2 linked regions of the Homo sapiens genome follow. The protein of the gene in region 2 purifies or fractionates together with the protein of the main gene of each other region. This does not show direct contact. Each region holds a gene or a part of one and is shown on either strand. Other genes may lie near its edges.

Region 1 (3,378 bases), on a different chromosome or scaffold from region 2:
TGTTAACCAGGATGTTCTTGATCTCCTGATCTCGTGATCTGCCCACCTCAGCCTCCCAAAGTGTTGGGATTACAGGTGTGAGCCACTGCGCCTGGCCTATTTTATTTATTTTTGAGACAGAGTCTTGCTCTGTCACCCAAGCTGGAGTGCAGTGGTGTGATCTTGGCTCACTGCAACCTCCGCCTCCCGGGTTCAAGCAATTATCCTGCCTCAGCCTCCCAAGTAGCTGGGATTACAGGCATGCACCATCATACCTGGCTCATTTTTGTATTTTTAGTAGAGATGGTGTTTCCCCATGTTGGCCAGGCTGGTTTCGAGCTCCTGACCTCAGGTGATCCACCCTCCTCGGCCTCCCAAAGTGCTAGGATTACAGGCGTGAGCCACCACGCCTGGCCATATTTATTTATTTTTTTGAAATGGAGTTTTGTTCTAGTCGCCCAGGCTGGAGTGCAATGATGCGATCTCAGCTCACTGCAACCTCCACTTCCTGGGTTCAAGCCATTCTTCCGCCTCAGCCTCCGAGTAGCTGGGATTACAGGTGCCCGCCACCACACCCAGCTAATTTTTGTATTTTTAGTAGAGACGGGGTTTCACCATGTTAGCCAGGCCAGTCTCGAACTCCTGACCTCAGGTAATCTGCCTGCCTCAGCCTCCCAAAAGGCTGGGATTATAGGCATGAGCCACCGTGCCCAGCCTTTGTTTTTTGAGATGGAGTTTTGCTCTTGTCACTCAGGCTGAAGTGCAGTGGCACAATCTTGGCTCACTGCAACCTCCACCTCCCAGGTTCAAGCGATTCTCCTGCCTCAGCCTCCTGAGTAGCTGGGATTACAGGCTCCCACCACACCTGGCTAATTTTTTGTATTTTTAGTAGAGATGGGGTTCCACCATGTTGGCCAGGCTGCTCTCGACCTCCTGACTTCAGGCGATCCGCCCACCTAGGCCTCCCAAAGTGTTGGGATTACAGGCGTGAGCCACCGTGCCTGGTCAGAAGCTGAGAGTTTTAACTGTTCCTTGGAAGGGCTGTTTCCTTCTCTTCTTTCCCTTTACCCCCCAGTCTTCACAAGCTATTCCCCAGTTATTGTTCTCCTGGGGCTCAATGCCTGATGCCATATTTCCCGGAAAAGAGTCAACTGACCAGCACAGGACCCAGGTCTAGGGAGGGAGAGAAGGATCTGTCCGCCACTCCCTCTGCAGAAATGCCTGAGCATTCCCTTGTGTGGGAACAGAAAAGACTTCGGCTCAAATCTCAGCTGTCACTTGCTTGCTGGGTGACCTTGAAAAAAATCCCTAACATCTACCTTGCACGGTGCTGGAGAGAGAAAAGGAGCTAACGCACAGCCCAGGCACTTGGTCAACGGTGCCTGTTGTGATTAACTTGGGGTCTGCAGCAGTGGAGCTCTATTGCTGTGGGACCTCCCTTCCAGCTTTCTGCTCAGCTCTTGGTAGGGTGAGAACCAGGCCAAGACCGTGGGCAACTATGATCAAGGCTCTGAGGCTGCGAGGGATGGCTCCACTGAACTGCTGATTTGTCTCCATCAGCTACTGTTTGGAATTTTGCAGTTTTGGGGGTTTTGATGGTGAGTTTTCTTTCCTTTTGGGGTACTTGCCAGCAGCTATTTTTATGAGACTTTCTTTGCTCCCCTAACCCCATCCATCCCCTTCTCTCTGCCTGCCTCATTAGAGTTGGATTTCCAGGCCAGCCAGTTTCACAGCTTGGTGGCATCTAAGGCCCCAAGAGATCTCTCACCCTTCTTGTTGGTACTTGGCAGCCTCATGCTTCTAGTTCTTTCTATAGTTTTTTTTTTTTTTTTTTTTTTTTTTTTTTTTTTTTGAGACCAGGTCTCGCTATGTCACCTAAACTGGAGTGCAATGGTACAAACATGGCTCACTGTAGCTTAGCCTCTTGGGTGCAAGTGATCCACCCACCTCAGCCTCCTGAGTAGTAGGGAGTACAGGCAAGCACCACTCCTGGCTAATTTTTTGTACTTTTTGCAGAGACGGTTTCGCCGTGTTGCCCAGGCTGGTCTTGAACTCCTGGGCTCAAGCAATCCTCCTGCCTTGGCCTCCCAAAATGCTGGGATTACATGGGTGAGTCACTGCGCCCAGCCCCAGTCTTAGACGATCTTCCTCAGCATTATGTCCTCTCTTGCTTTTCTGGACAACCCCTGATAAAGCACTGCCCTCCATCCCTCAAGGTGGCTGCCCTTCCCCACTTCCTCCTGGGACACCCGGCTCCAGCTCCCAGGGCAGAAGGAGAGAAAACCTGAAGGGCTCTCAGAGTACTGGGTCAACCCCATCTTCAGGTTTTAAAGCCTTCTAACAGTGGGGCAGAAGGTAAGAAGAAAAAAGTCAACCTACGGCCTTGGTGCCCACAGAGATTCTACCCTGGGAGCCAAGGGCTGCCTGGGGAGGTCCCCTGGGGCCCTCCCTGTGCTCACTGTAGCCCCAATGCTTTCTCAGAACTCTGTGCACTGAAGCCCTCGCAGCATGGTCTGGGGCGTGCTGTGGCTGGCCTGAGGCCTGCTGGCATTGGAGTGCACTGTGCCAGGCGCTGTGCCTAGTGAATTCTCAGCTCTTTTCGAGACAGAGTCTCGCTCTGTCGCCCAGACTGGAGTGCAGTGACATGATCTCAGCTCACTGCAACCTCCACTTCCCGGGTTCATGCAATTCTCCTGCCTCAGCCTCCCGAGTAGCTGGGACTACAGGCATGTGCCACCATACCCAGCTAATTTTTGTATTTTTAGTAGAGACAGTGTTTCATCATGCTGGCCAGGCTGGTATCAGACTCCTGACCTTGTGATCCACCCACTTGGACCTCCCAAAGTTCTGGGAGGCATGAGCCACCGCACCCAGCTCAGCTCTTCTCAAGTAGATTACCAGGGGCAGAACAGGCTGCCTTGGGGCCCTATGGGTGCTGCTGCAGCCAAGCCCCCAGAGAGCCCCGGATGGGCTTTCCCAGGCTCTGCGGGAGGCCCTGCTGCTGGCACTCAAGTCTGAGCCCACTGCTTGCTTGCCTATGGCTCCAGGCCTGGCCACCCCTCTCTATGGCTATGACTGTGTCCTAACTGGGCTTCTTGCTTCCAGTCTCCTCCCCTTCCGTCTAGTCTCCACACTGTTCCTATTACCATCCTAATTCAGCTCTGCTGACTTGAGCTCTGGTTAAGTCTGCACCCTGTTCAAAACCCAGCAGCTGCAAAAGCCCTCACAGTAGTCAAAACTCCTTAGCTTGACATTTGAGGGCTCTCTGGCCAGACCCTTATCATGCTGCAGACCTTCCTGCCCTGTCCCCCACATTCCTGCAGGTACCCGGCAGCCCTGCTCCCTGCCTGCACAGATGGGCATACACTGTGCACACTGTGCCATGCTCTCGTCCCATCT
Region 2 (3,823 bases):
GCTCAGTTATTAAAACATTTGGGCCTCTGGAGCACCAATAAATGTCAATGTGCTTAGCAAAATTTGGAATCATGAGCAAAGTGTGGCAGTGCGTGTTCCATGTAACAGGCACTCAAAAATTATGCCCAGTGAAACTGCTAAGAGCAGTTCCACACATGATCATTTAAATTTGTTCTAATGAACCCGAGGAACTGATCTTTGAAGTGGCCCCTGGTGAGACTCCACTTGCTCTTAACAGCATCCTGAAAGGATTTATAGGGTGCAAAATGAGGACCTTGTTTAATTTATGGAAGTGGATTTGCACCTTCTCTATGTTAGGTGAAAAATAGCAATCCCCTGCTTCTCCCCCATAGACCTATATGACCCATTTAGAATGACTACAAAGCCAATGCCTGCTACGTTACAATGTTACTAAGGTCTGTATTTTATATTTCAGATGGATGGACCAATGTAAAGCAAAATTCAGCTTGTTGTAAAAAGATTTGTGGTGTGTGCCATAGGGACCCTTCTTTTGAACCAAAGTGCATATTCTGATAGTGCTTAGAAAGTACAGTAGCCACAGAACAAGAATGTTCATCATGTAAAATGTTATTCACTTTATAGCAATGAAAAAAATCTGGAAATTATCAATGAATGTATTCTATAGCCTTCGTAGATAATCAAGGACCTAGGTAAAACCATGGGTTAAGTTAACTGAACCTATGCCATGTTGATTCTAATACGCATATAGATAAAGCTGTGACTCCAGGTCTGGCCTACTATACTCTCTATGCCTCTCATGCCACTTAAGACATTCTACTCATGTTCCAGATATTTGTGTATTTATCTTTCTCACCGTCATCAGTTATTTTGAAGAGAGAAACCAGGTTTACATGACGTCTGCAGGCCTTGCAGAACCTAACAATGCACTTTGCTCAAAGTAGGCATACAACAAATATATTTATGAATGAATAACTTTATCAAATATTTTTATGCTTTGATAAAGCTTTAATGTGTGGTTTTAGCCAGGGTTTATGAAGGAGGATCATTGGGAATGGACTGTGAGGCATATCTTCCTAAGTCATCTTTGAATCATGTGAGGGGACAAATACTGCTTGTTTCTACGTGCAGAACAGCAGGAACATAACAGCTTGTATAGTTTGAATGGAAAAAGTCACATAGCTGAGCCATGGATGCTTGTCATTTCTACAAATCACAAAAACACAGGGATATGAACTTGGAACAATTTGTGGTTCTTCATTAAATCTTAATAGCCTCGGATGAGTGCAAGAGATGAAAAAAAATCAATGGAATAAGAACTACTAAAGTAAAAGACAAATTAAGCACCAGTGTGAACATAGTGACCCTTTCAAAAGACATGAGGCCACCTGTTAAGTTTTGCATGCAATTTTACAATCTAGTCCAAACTATTGGATTCCACTTTATACTGACAACTCTTTTCCAGGGGCATTGTGAATCTCTCAGTTAAGGTAGAGTTCTTATCACCTGGGAACTGCATGGTGGTTTGTGTGACTCACTCTGTTCTGACCCATCTGACTGGGAGGAAAGCTTTTAAGGCACTTCTTTAGATTGGATGGATTACATTATATATCATTTCTTTATCCCCAATATATATTTTTAGCTCCTCACTTACTATGTCCTAGGTACTGTGCAGGAAATCAAAGATGAAATGGAAATAATGTAGTAAGAGAAAAATGGCAGATGAATGAATAAACTAAAATACGATTAATGCTATTATAGAAGCATAAGGAAAATATATGAAATTGTCAACTTGACAGCCTATAGTCCTATCCCACTTATTCTACTTTAATTTTCTCCATTGCACTTACCATCCTAAACTATATATTTATTTGCTTATTAGTATTTTACCCTCAACTAGAATATGAACTCTAGGTCTGTCTTGTTCTTTAATGTATCCTTTTGATGATGCCTGGCACATGGTAGGTTCTTAGTAAATATTCCTTGGAAGAGTGAATGAATAAGAGAATTGAAAATTCTATGGGACTTAAAGGTGGGAGTGGTTTTCTTTGCCCAAGAGTCAGAAAATGTTTCACATGGAATGATCTCTGTGCTGGCTCTTGAATGATGAGGAGGAATTAACCAGGCCAAAAAGGGAGAAATGCTAGAACTGGTAAAAGAAGTTGAGTATGCAAACTCATTGAGGCATGGAGGGATAAGAAATATTTGGGGATTGTTATCTCTGATGGGCACATGGCTAGACCCTGAAGGTATGCGGAGATGCTGGGAAGGTGCAAGTGGTCTGTTATGATAGGCTCAGAAGCTCGAGCTTTTTTCCCTCAAGGCAGTGTGAACCACCACAGTCTTATGAACAGCTAATGACCAGAGCAGATGCAGCTCTTTAAGATAATGAAGAGTTGAAGTCGTGCTTTCCATTTTTCCAGAGATGCTTTCTCATAATGCAAGGTGGTTAAAATCCAGAATGTGATAACAGACTTTCGGAAATGAAGAACATGTCATCAGTAAAGAAACAGAAAAATCACCTTCCATGACGACAAGCCGTGTAGACTGTACCTTCCTCACTGCCAACCACGAAGTTATTGACGTCTCCCGTTGGGAAAGCCATTCCGGTAACAGCGACAGGCTTGGACTTATTGTACACCAGCTCCATGCTCTCCTACCAAAACACGGTGTGGTTACATTTCCATCTGTCAACTCCTTGCCATGCCAAAGATAGCACGGAAAAATCATTTGGCTAAATCATGTGTTTGCTTTTCACACAGCGTTACAAAAGACCCCGGCTGTGCCAGAAACCATGCTTTACTGCCCCTGACATTCATGCTTCTGTGGATCTCTGGTTTCAAGCCGGCTGGATTTCATCAGCATGTGCTGCTGCTTCTTAAGTCAGGCAAAGATGACAGGTGAGAATTTTGAAACTAATGGTGCAGAAACTAAAGATAATAATGGTTACACTTGTCAGCTCCAAGCTTTAATAAAACACACAATACCCTTGTATTTACAAACATTTTCAAAATCAATTGTTTGTGAGAATACACATGTATTAATATCAGATGTACTAAGCAAATTTGTCAAAGCAGGAGTATGTGTCCTCCATGGACTAAAACCAGAAAGTTGTCACTCAGGTCATAAAAACCAGATTTCAACAGGGACTAGATTTCATGCAGGGCAGCCATTGGGTGAATAGGCTATAAGCCTGAAAAGAACAATATTTAAATACGTCTTTAAAATAGCAAATGGGAGTCTTTATTTTATAATATGATTTTTTAAAATTGAGAATTAAAGATTCCTAATCTTAAAAGATATACTGCTGAGTTAAGTTTAATGACAGAAAAGAATAATCAATTATAACTAATATCCCTGAGTATTTCTGGCTATTTACATCAAATAGCCTATTTTGTGCATCTGAAATAATTTTTAAAAAATCATTCTGAGGTATCATATCATTATAGTTGCTTGAGAGTTTAGTCTTTCTTGTGCAAATAAACTATTTCAGCCAAGGAGTCCATTAAATTGAAAGTGCAAGCTAACAGTCTAAGCAACACAGACTGATTCTGATCCTGTGATGTGTTCAAAGTTTGTGATATCCACACATAGGGTGCACATCAGCAACTGGGATAAAGGAGAGGATGCTGTGACTATGTCATACAGATAACTGGATCATCCAATGATCTGCTTCATCACTAAAATTAGCAGCAAGGAAGGAAAAGTCCCTTTACCCATTTGGGAGAGAGAAAGACCAGGCCAACTGTTGGATGCCCCTATTCCTCCCTGCCATCCATGGAAGCCATGTCACGAAATCCTCCATCTTTGTATAGACACAGGAGTCTGTGAGCATGCTAAAACT

Evidence for each region.
Region 1: the proteins of DYNC1I1 (region 2) and AMBRA1 purify together in Homo sapiens (affinity purification with western blotting, with the first as the bait; one study listed by BioGRID). This does not show direct contact.

What each region holds. Positions count from the first base shown.
Region 1 is NC_000011.10:46,398,679-46,402,056, forward strand, and holds part of AMBRA1 (activating molecule in BECN1-regulated autophagy protein 1), read right to left. Parts: intron 1-3,378. UniProt on the Homo sapiens protein: Substrate-recognition component of a DCX (DDB1-CUL4-X-box) E3 ubiquitin-protein ligase complex involved in cell cycle control and autophagy.
Region 2 is NC_000007.14:96,034,431-96,038,253, reverse strand, and holds part of DYNC1I1 (cytoplasmic dynein 1 intermediate chain 1), read right to left. Parts: intron 2,636-3,823; coding exon 2,502-2,635; intron 1-2,501. UniProt on the Homo sapiens protein: Acts as one of several non-catalytic accessory components of the cytoplasmic dynein 1 complex that are thought to be involved in linking dynein to cargos and to adapter proteins that regulate dynein function.